2 linked regions of the Homo sapiens genome follow. The protein of the gene in region 2 purifies or fractionates together with the protein of the main gene of each other region. This does not show direct contact. Each region holds a gene or a part of one and is shown on either strand. Other genes may lie near its edges.

The links. The genes of interacting proteins can lie anywhere in the genome.
Region 1: the proteins of RNF125 (region 2) and SERPINB12 purify together in Homo sapiens (affinity purification with mass spectrometry, with the first as the bait; one large-scale study listed by BioGRID). This does not show direct contact.

The regions. Positions count from the first base shown.
Region 1 is NC_000018.10:63,545,369-63,549,704, forward strand, and holds part of SERPINB12 (serpin B12), read left to right. Parts: intron 1-258; exon of another isoform or gene 259-362; coding exon of another isoform or gene 363-365; intron 366-1,532; exon of another isoform or gene 1,533-1,581; intron 1,582-4,135; exon of another isoform or gene 4,136-4,156; intron 4,157-4,336. UniProt on the Homo sapiens protein: Inhibits trypsin and plasmin, but not thrombin, coagulation factor Xa, or urokinase-type plasminogen activator. May play a role in cell differentiation.
Region 2 is NC_000018.10:32,062,899-32,068,071, reverse strand, and holds part of RNF125 (E3 ubiquitin-protein ligase RNF125), read right to left. Parts: intron 2,171-5,173; coding exon 2,063-2,170; intron 1-2,062. UniProt on the Homo sapiens protein: E3 ubiquitin-protein ligase that mediates ubiquitination and subsequent proteasomal degradation of target proteins, such as RIGI, MAVS/IPS1, IFIH1/MDA5, JAK1 and p53/TP53.

The DNA.
Region 1 (4,336 bases), about 31 Mb from region 2:
AGTACCAAATGCAGCTTGACATTTAGTAAGTGCTCAAGAAATTCTCATCCCCTTGTTAGTGATTTATCAAGCTACCTTAATGTTTAGCTACATTTAGTGTCAGATTTCATCTTCGCTCATTGAGCAATCGCACCACACCAAATTTTTAGGCTTGTAGGGCACAGTCATCTGTAGTTAGATCTTTGTTGAATTATTTAAGAGGATAAACAGATGCAAATCTAGATTAAAGACATTCAAACAAGTTTATACTCTTCTCAGGTACCCAGAAGCCCAGTGAAATTTGAATATTATCCCCCAACAGTAACAGATGTGACACCTACTTCCAGGAAGCCAGGCAAGAACTCATCCTGTTCTGAATATGAATGGTATACCCTTTTGGAAAGGCTATGATGGGCAACATGAAGTAGTAATCAATGACATAAAATATTAAATAATTCACGTGTTAAAATTTTCCAAACTCTTGCAAATCATAACCAATGACTAGACTGGTTTTTAGAATTTTGTGGAAGAATTTAGAAAAAAAAATAATTATTTTCAAATGATCAAGGAGTAAAGAAAACTAACAGCACGTTTCTTTTCTATGCTTACTATTGATAATTCAGAAAAACTCTGGATGCTTAGTCATTAATTTCCACTGGTCAATATCTTATAAAACTTGTTTTATTTATACACTAGCTACATAAGTAGTTTATATTTTCCATAAAGGCCATCTCTCCATTTTAGAAAGTTTTCCTTTGAATTTCTCTACACCTAATGTATTTGTAGGGTCATGGTTCAGATAATATTGTTGTCTGACAACAAGTTAGAAAAGGAAGATAAAGGGCTCAGTAGGAGAACCAGGTCAGAGAGGGGTCCTCGTTTGTCCTTAAGACATGTCAGTTCCTGGAGTTTGACTCTTCCTAGCTTTCTCCTAGTTGCTCCACACTTTTTGCCCTATCCACTGACCCTCATGTTTACAGTCAGTAACATAACACGATTGTAGAGTGCTAGAACCAAAAGTAACATCAGAACATGCTTTGGCTAAGTTTAAAAAGTTTTGTGTTTTCAGTTGTAAAATATGTGTGTCAATAATCAAATAATAATTCTCATCCCTACCACACACCTACTGCAGGAAAGCAAAAACTTTGAAGTAGCTTAGAGCACATTTTGCAAATCCTATGTAATAACTTAGAAAGATTTTAGAATAATGCAAAAATTCAAATATAAGAAATCATCTAAGACAATGTGTATATGAAGTAAAATACATTTCTGCTTCATGGTCTTCTAGTATAGAAATTTGAATTGAAAAGTGTGAGCCAAGTATTGCTTTGAGGGCTCTATAAAATTGGAAAGAGCAAAGAAAATATAAGCATATTAAGTTAAATATTCAATGTAGTTAAAAGCATAGCATTTGTTTTAAAAATATATGCCACTCTTTTCTTTTCCCTTTAATCTATCAATGATGATTTTACTCTGGATTCCAAAATGGCACTGGAAAAGTTCCACAGAGGGAGGGGCAAAGTTGATATATTTCCATTCCCGACAGGGTGTGGAGGGAAGCTTACCTGACCAGCTGTTAGCAGCAACTCTGAGGGCAAGAAGGTAAATGCTCGAATTGCCTGATATAATTTTTAACAATGAACACTGAATTGGAAAACCATTTTAAAGGATAGAAACCCAGAGGAGATGTGATTGAAATAGAAGGATATACTTGTTTTTATTAAGTCAAATACTTAAAAAAAGTGAGTTAGTTTTATGATGTTTTGGATTTTCTGCAGATGTGGCAGTCATCACTGGGAGATATTAACAATGCTTGTCACCTCGCTCAGCCCCAACCACCTGGTCAGATGCCTGATGTATATGATTGATTTTTTTAAAATGTAGATGTTTGAATAACTTTTTAAACTTTCACATACTTGACATATTGTATTTTATCTTTTAATGAATTATTTCTGAAACATAAGATGGTATAATATTTAGAATATCTATATTTTAAACAATGTGAGTTAGATTTTTTTTTTTTGCACCATAAGTTGGAAAACACTTTCGATGGTATTGTTCACAAGTATTTCTTTGTTTTTAGATATTGGTTATTATTTAGTTTGCTGTAACCTGGTTTGAATATTTGTTCCAGCAGAATAGCATCTATTTGTGTAAAGTTTGAATTTCATTCTTGAGTTGTTAGTAGCTTTGTGGGAATTATAGAAATTATAAGACATGAAATATTTTTGGAGTATAAATATTTTTCTTCCTACTATATATAGGAAAAAACAGTTTTACTCAGAATATTTTGGGTTGTTAGAATGTCTATCTTGTCTAAACCTTTACATTTTTACTATAAGGGAAAATTGTAATAAATGAACTTTTTCTTATACAGTAAATGAATTTTTTTTATATTGCAGTAAGTGAACTTTTTCTTATATAGTAAAAAATTAATAAAAAGCTGATTCTCTTATGCAGAATCTCTGTTAATTACAGCTTCCTGCAGGATATATAAAGTTAATATGAAATGCTAAATAGTCTTCTAACATTTCAAACATTAGGATTATCTACAATGAAAAATGGGCAGATGACAGCAAATCAATCCATAAATATTATGAAGGGTTCTCATGTGCTACCATTGTGTTCTTCACGGATGGGTACAAGGATGAATTAAAAACACTGAACCTACCTTCAAGACAATTATGATTTGGAAGTAAAGACATCAGTATAAAAAATAATTACCTTACAGTGTGATAGAGGAGTTAAGGGAAACAAATGTTGTATGGTTATTGTATACAGTGGTGACTAATTAACTCTTTAGAGGGAGAGGTTGGAGGAAAGTGGAAGAAGGTTTTACGTGTGTAACAAAGCCAGAAGGAAAGAAAACAAGCAAAATAGATCATTTGTTGATACCTCAAACACCATAAAAATGGAAAAAAATACCTTTAAAAAATTAAAAATGTTACACATTTCAGATAGTCAGTATTTAAAAATGTATCTTCAAAGCTAACAATGTAAGTTAAAATCTTACAGGAAAGATTTTCTTTCTTGTAAAAAATTGAAAGTAGATGAGGTTTTAAAATTAAGTTGAAAATACATTACCCTCAAGGTTTTGAAGTGATAGAAGAGAGTGCCAGAAAATATTGACAATTTTCAGTAAATAAGAGTAAAAACAATTCTATAATAACAATAAAGAAAATAAAGGAAGGTAAAACAGGGGAAATTTTTTTAAAGAACAAGTTTGAAAAACATAAAATGTTTATATAATATGAAGAGTTCATAATGATCCATAAATAAATGATCAAGACCTCAATAGATAATTGAAAGATGAACAAGAGACAGTTAATATGTGAGAATTTATAAAGAGAAAAGAACACATGGAGAAACATTCAAATGTTAGCAAGTATCAATGCCATGTAAATTTAAAAATAATACAATTTTCTTTTTATTTTTTAAGTTATTAAGAATGGCAATAATATCTGAAAAAGGTGATTATGATATAGCAGTTTCATCTGTAACTTTTGGCTGACAGTATGAAAGTTAAAAATCTTTATAATATTTGACCTAGAAATCCCATGTTGAAGAAGATACTCTGAAGAAATAATATGAAGGGAGATAAAAGCTATATTTATGACAATGTTTATCGTAGAATTATTCATATTAATAAAAACTGGGAAGCTAATTTAAGTATCTAGCAATATGATGTTAGTTTAAACATTTAGATAAGTCAGTATAATGAGATATTATAAGGCCATTAAAAGAACATCTATGAAGACAGTATTAGGATAAACACTTAAGATGCAATTTGAAGTGAAAACAAGTGAACATAAAATGTTCATATAAACAGGCACGTACACACACATCAATGCAGTGATTGAGAGATTGGAAAGCACACGGAAAAATAAAGGCGATTTATTTTTCAGTATTGTGAGGGCAAAATTCCTCATTACTATTATTCTGCCATCTGTATAACAAATTAGACCTTGAGAATAAAATTCCTTCTTCTACTTCATTAGAAGTTAAATCGTGAATCCCTTACTTGGAAAATATTATAGGCAAAAATATGATAGTATTTGTATTGATATAAAATGAATTTTTTTCTTTTTCTTCTGACTAAGAACTGCTTATCTTCTCTTTCCTATATAGCTATGGTCAGTAGGAGGTGACATTGTGGATAGTACATGGGAGCTATCATGTAAGTCACTCCCAATTAGGCTACGATTGTTTGCAATCTATTTAGGATACATTTGCACAGATTTCAATGCAATTTGAGAAGGATTTTTTGAGTAATTTTTCAGTCTAGAGAAGCAACCCCCATAAAGATTGTAGGAATCTTTGGAGGACAAACTGGAGCTTGAGATGTGCCTTCCAGAGA
Region 2 (5,173 bases):
GTCTTGATTTGAAATTTGAAGTTTTTATCTGATATAATGAGAAGTTTTTAGTCACCATTACAAATCCTGGTCAGAGTGCTATGTTCCACATAAACCTGTAAAATGGAGCAAAGTTCAGGCTCCCCCACAGGCTTCACCAATGCCAGCAGTACCACTGAATGGCTACTTCTGAAGAAAATGTTAAAAACAAAACTTTCTCCTTGCCTCCTATGTGTCAAAGTGGAATTCAAAATTCTATGTCAGCACATTCTATAAGTAAAACAAAAACCATTAAGAACCCTATCCTCTGCAATCCCTCTCCTCTTCCGCAATAACAAAAGGTGAAATCTCTATTCAAAGTCCATTCTGCAATATAAAAACAAAACAAAAAAACCCCCACAAAATCCAAAGGAAAGTCATAAAGTACAGCAGAACACAAGGTTTGGTCTTGATACTGGCTTGTTCTTAGATAATTCAGTTAACCTTTGAGCTTCAGATATTTCAGTTAAATGAAGATAAAAATACAGTATTCACTTCACGGAAGTTGCTACAAGGAATAAAATGTGATATATACATATAGTGCTTAGCTTAGTATATAGTAGCTCAGGAAGCAAAAAATCAAAACAAAGAACACTACTTCCAGTTCACTTCCCTACCCAAGAATATGGCTGTGAGTGGCTGGAAAGTATTCCTATCAAAGTGGCTTCATCCTGCCTAGCTCTGGATCATGCTTTGTCTGAAAGATCTTGAGAACAGACTGAGCATGATTAGACAGAACAGCCATAGAATCGACCTGGCTTTTAGAACACCTCATAGAGCTAAGGTAAAGAGAAACCTCTTGAGACGGAGTCTCGCTCTGTCACCCAGGCTGGAGTGCAGTGGCGCGATCACGGTTCACTGCAAGCTCCGCCTCCCGAGTTCACACCATTCTCCTGCCTCAGCCTCCAGAGTAGCTGGGACCACAGGCGCCCGCCACCATGCCCAACTAATTTTCTTGTATTTTTAGTAGAGACAGGGTTTCACCGTGTTAGCCAGGATGGTCACGATCTCCTGACCTCATGATCCGCCCATCTCGGCCTCCCAAAGTGCTGGGATTACAGGTGTGAGCCACCACGCCCGGCCAAGAGAAACCTCTTTGTATTACCAGAGAGAACACATAGACCAGAACCAAGTTCTGTTGAGGCCTGTGTGCCATATGGGCCACAAAAGACATGCTTAGAGATATGGAGCTGAGAATTTAAAGCCTCTGTCATGTTCCTTGTTCAGTTCCTCAAGTGGTCCTAACAATTCTACTCCCATCCCATCTCCAATTTGCCTAACATCTGCACCTGAACTGTGCAAAGCACTTTATATACATTATCTCATTTAATCCTAAGAAGAATTTTGGGAGTAGGTGCTTTTAATCTCTTCCCTTAACCAGTGCACAAACTGAGTTTCCGAGGTTAAATACCTTCTGCAAGGTCGCACATATATGACAGAGCTATTGCTTAAAACTAGTTTAGAACCTGAGCTCCTTGTATCCAACCTGGATAATAATAATTGGCAGATAGAAAGCATGGAGAAAATTCTCAAATGACAATCTTCAATCGTTATTAAATTTTATCTTGAAATTGCATTTCATTTTTTTTTTTTTTGAGACAAAGTCTCACTCTGTTGCCCAGGCTGGAGTGGAGTGGTGTGATCTCAGCTCACTGAAACCTCTGCCTCCTGGGTTCAAGCGATTCTCCTGCCTCAGCCTACCGAGTAGCTGGGACTACAGGCGTGTACCACCATGCCTGGCTAATTTTTTTATTTTTAGTATTTTTAATAGAGATAGGATTTCACCATGTTGGCCAGGCTGGTCTTGAACTCCTGACCTCAAGTGATTCGCCCACCTCGGCCTCCCAAAGTGTTGGGATTACAGGCGTGAGCCACTGCACCAGGCCAAAACATTCTATTTTCATGATTTCTTACTTAATGCTAATACTCAACACTATAGCTATATACACATTTTTTCCTCTATAATTTTATTCACTTGGATCGGAAAGGTAAGCTTAACAAGACAGCATGAAAACATAATGTAAAAATAAGAAAATATACTTACTATGAAATCATCATAAAACAAAGTGTGACTAACTTGCAGATGTCTTATTAAACTGCCACTGAAGCTGCTTGGATTCTCATCGGGTATTAAACGGCAAAGTGGACAGAACTGGAAACAAACAAGACCAGGGGTTCAAGAAAGAATTTAAAATCGTTATTAGTGTTAGAATTAAAAACAACGGCTGGGCGCGGTGGCTTACGCCTGTAATCCCAGTACTTTGGGAGGCAGAGGCGGCCGGATCACCAGGTCAAGAGATGGAGACCATCCTGGCCAACATGGTGAAACGCCGTCTCTACTAAAAATACAAAAATTAGCTGGGCGTGGTGGTACGTGCCTATAGTCCCAGCTACTCGGGAGACTGAGGCAGGAGAATTGCTTGAACCCGGAGGCAGAGGTTGCAGTGAGCCAAGATCACACCACTGCCCTCCAGCCTGGCGACAGAGCAAGACTCCGACACACAAAAAAACAAAACAAGACGGGGTGCAGTGGCTCACACCTATAATCCCAACATTTTGGGAGGTTGAGGCGGGTGGATCACGAGGTCAGGAGTTCAAGACCAGCCAGGCCAAGATGGTGAAACCCTGTCTCTACTAAAAATACAAAAATTAGCTGGGCGCAGTGGCAGATGCCTGTAATGCCAGCCACTCAGGAGGCTGAGGCAGGAGAATCACTTTAATCTGGGAGGCGGAGGTTTCAGTGAGCCGAGATCTTGCCATTGCACACCAGCCTGGGCAACAAGAGCAAAACTCTGTCTCAAAAAACAAGACAAAACAAAACAAACAATAACAACAAAAAACAACAACAGGTAACCATTCAAAAATAAACTGTCAACTTTATTCATCCATTAGCCATACCTCAGTATTATGTTATAAAATTGCATAAACATGAAAGCAACATTAAGCAAATAAAATTACATGTCTTCATATGCATTTCTTGCTCATATGCATACATAACAATATAACTATTTGTTTCATATTCATCAATTTATTATTTAAACAATATTACAATTAATACATGTACCATAATTTACTTAATTAGTTTGCCTACCTCTTGGAATACTTGTTTGTATATGGATATTTTACTATCACAAATGAGAATAACTATAGTGTTTACCTTTTAGGGGATTAGTTCCTTAGGAGAAATGACCAGAAATGGCAATTACCAGGTCAACAATTATGAACGTTGGCCAGGAGCGGTGGCTCACTCCTGTAATCCCAGCACTTTGAGAGGAGGCCAAGGCAGGTAGATTACTTGAGGCCCAGAGTTCAAGACCAGCATGGCCAACATGGTGAAACCCTGTCTCTACTAAAAATACAAAAATGAGTCAGACGTGGTGGTGCACACCTGCCTGCTATCCCACCTACTTGGCAGGCTGAGGCAGGAGAATTGCTTGAAAAAAGATTTCACTAGGTTTTGCCTGTACTCATATTTTTCAGTGTGTGTGTGTGTGATATAGTTTGGAAACTTGTCCCCACCCAAATCTCATGTTGAAATGTAATCCCTGGGTGTGGAGACAAAAAAATTAGCCAGGTATGGTGGCAGCACCTGTAATCCCAGCTACTCAGGCAGCCGAGGCACCAGCTCTGTCTCAAAAAAAAAAAAAAAAAAAAAAAGAAAAAGAAAAAGATTTCACCAGATTTTGCCTGTACTCATATTTTTCAGTGTGTGTGTGTGAGATATAGTTTGGAAATTTGTCCCCGCCCAAATCTCATGTTGAAGTGTAATCCCTGGGCGCCGTGGCTCATGCCTGTCATCCCAGCACTTTGGGAGGTGGATCACTTGAGGTAGGAGTTCATGACCAGCCTGGCTAACATGGCAAAACCCATGTCTACTAAAAAGACAAAAAAATTAGCCAGGCGTGGTGGTGCACACCTGTAGTCCTGGCTACTCCAGAGGCTGAGGCAGCAGAATGGCTTGAACCCAGGAGGCAGAGGTTGCAGTAAGCCGAGATCGCACCACTGCACTCCAGCCTGGATGACAGAGTGAGACCCTGTCTCAAAAAGAAAAAAAAAAGGACTTGATGGATTAAAAAAAAAAAAAAGATACAGACCATTCTGTCACTGCAAAGGAATGTCAGTGCGTTGCTATCCTTTATTTCCTTCTCTCTCCCTAACCTCTGCTCTGTTCCCCATATTATTATTATTACTATTTCGAGAAACTTATATAAATAGAACTATACAGTATTTAACCTTTTGAGATTGGCTTTTCCCATTGAGCATGACTTTGAGATCCATCTAAGTTGCTGGGTGTATCCATAGCTCCCTCCTTATTACTGAGTAGTATTTCATGTATGGATGTCCCACAGTCTGCTTATCCATTTATTTTGTAAAGGGCATTTGGGTTGTTTCCAGTTTTTGGTTGTTAAGATAAAGCTCCAAGAAATATTTGTGTACAAATGTTTGCATAAACATTAAGTTTTCATTTCTCTAGGATAAATTTTCAGGAGTGTGATTGCCTGGTTATATGATAAGTATATGTTTAACTTTGTAAAATATTGCCAAACTGTTTTCCAGAGTGGCTGTACTATTTTACATTCCCACCAGCAATGTATGAATTATTCAGTTTTTCTTTATTTTCCCCAACATTTGGTATTGTCCAAATTTTTTTATTTGAGCCATTTTGTTAAACGTGTACTGGTATCTCACCATGGTTTTAATTTGCACTTCTATGATGGCTAATATAAATAACTCTTTTAACATATATTACTTTATCACATTTTAACAAAGGTTCACTTTTTTAAAATTATATTTATTCATGTATTCTTCTTTTTTTTTTTTTTTTTGAAATGGAGTTTTGAGTTTTGCTCTTGTTGCCCAGGCTGGAGTGCAATGGCATGGTCTTGGCTCACTGCAACCTCCGCCTCCTGGGTTCAAGCAACTTTCCTGCCTCAGCCTCCCAAGTAGCTGGGATTACAGGCGCCCACCACCATGCCCAGCTAATTTTTGTATTTTTAGTAAAGACAGGGTTTCACCATTTTGGCCAGGCTGGTCACGAACTCCTGACCTCAGGTGATCTACCCACCTCTGCCTCCCAAAGTGCTGGGATTACAAGCATGAGCCACCCCACCCGGCCCATGTATTCATTTTTTAAAGTATGAGATGCAGACTTATT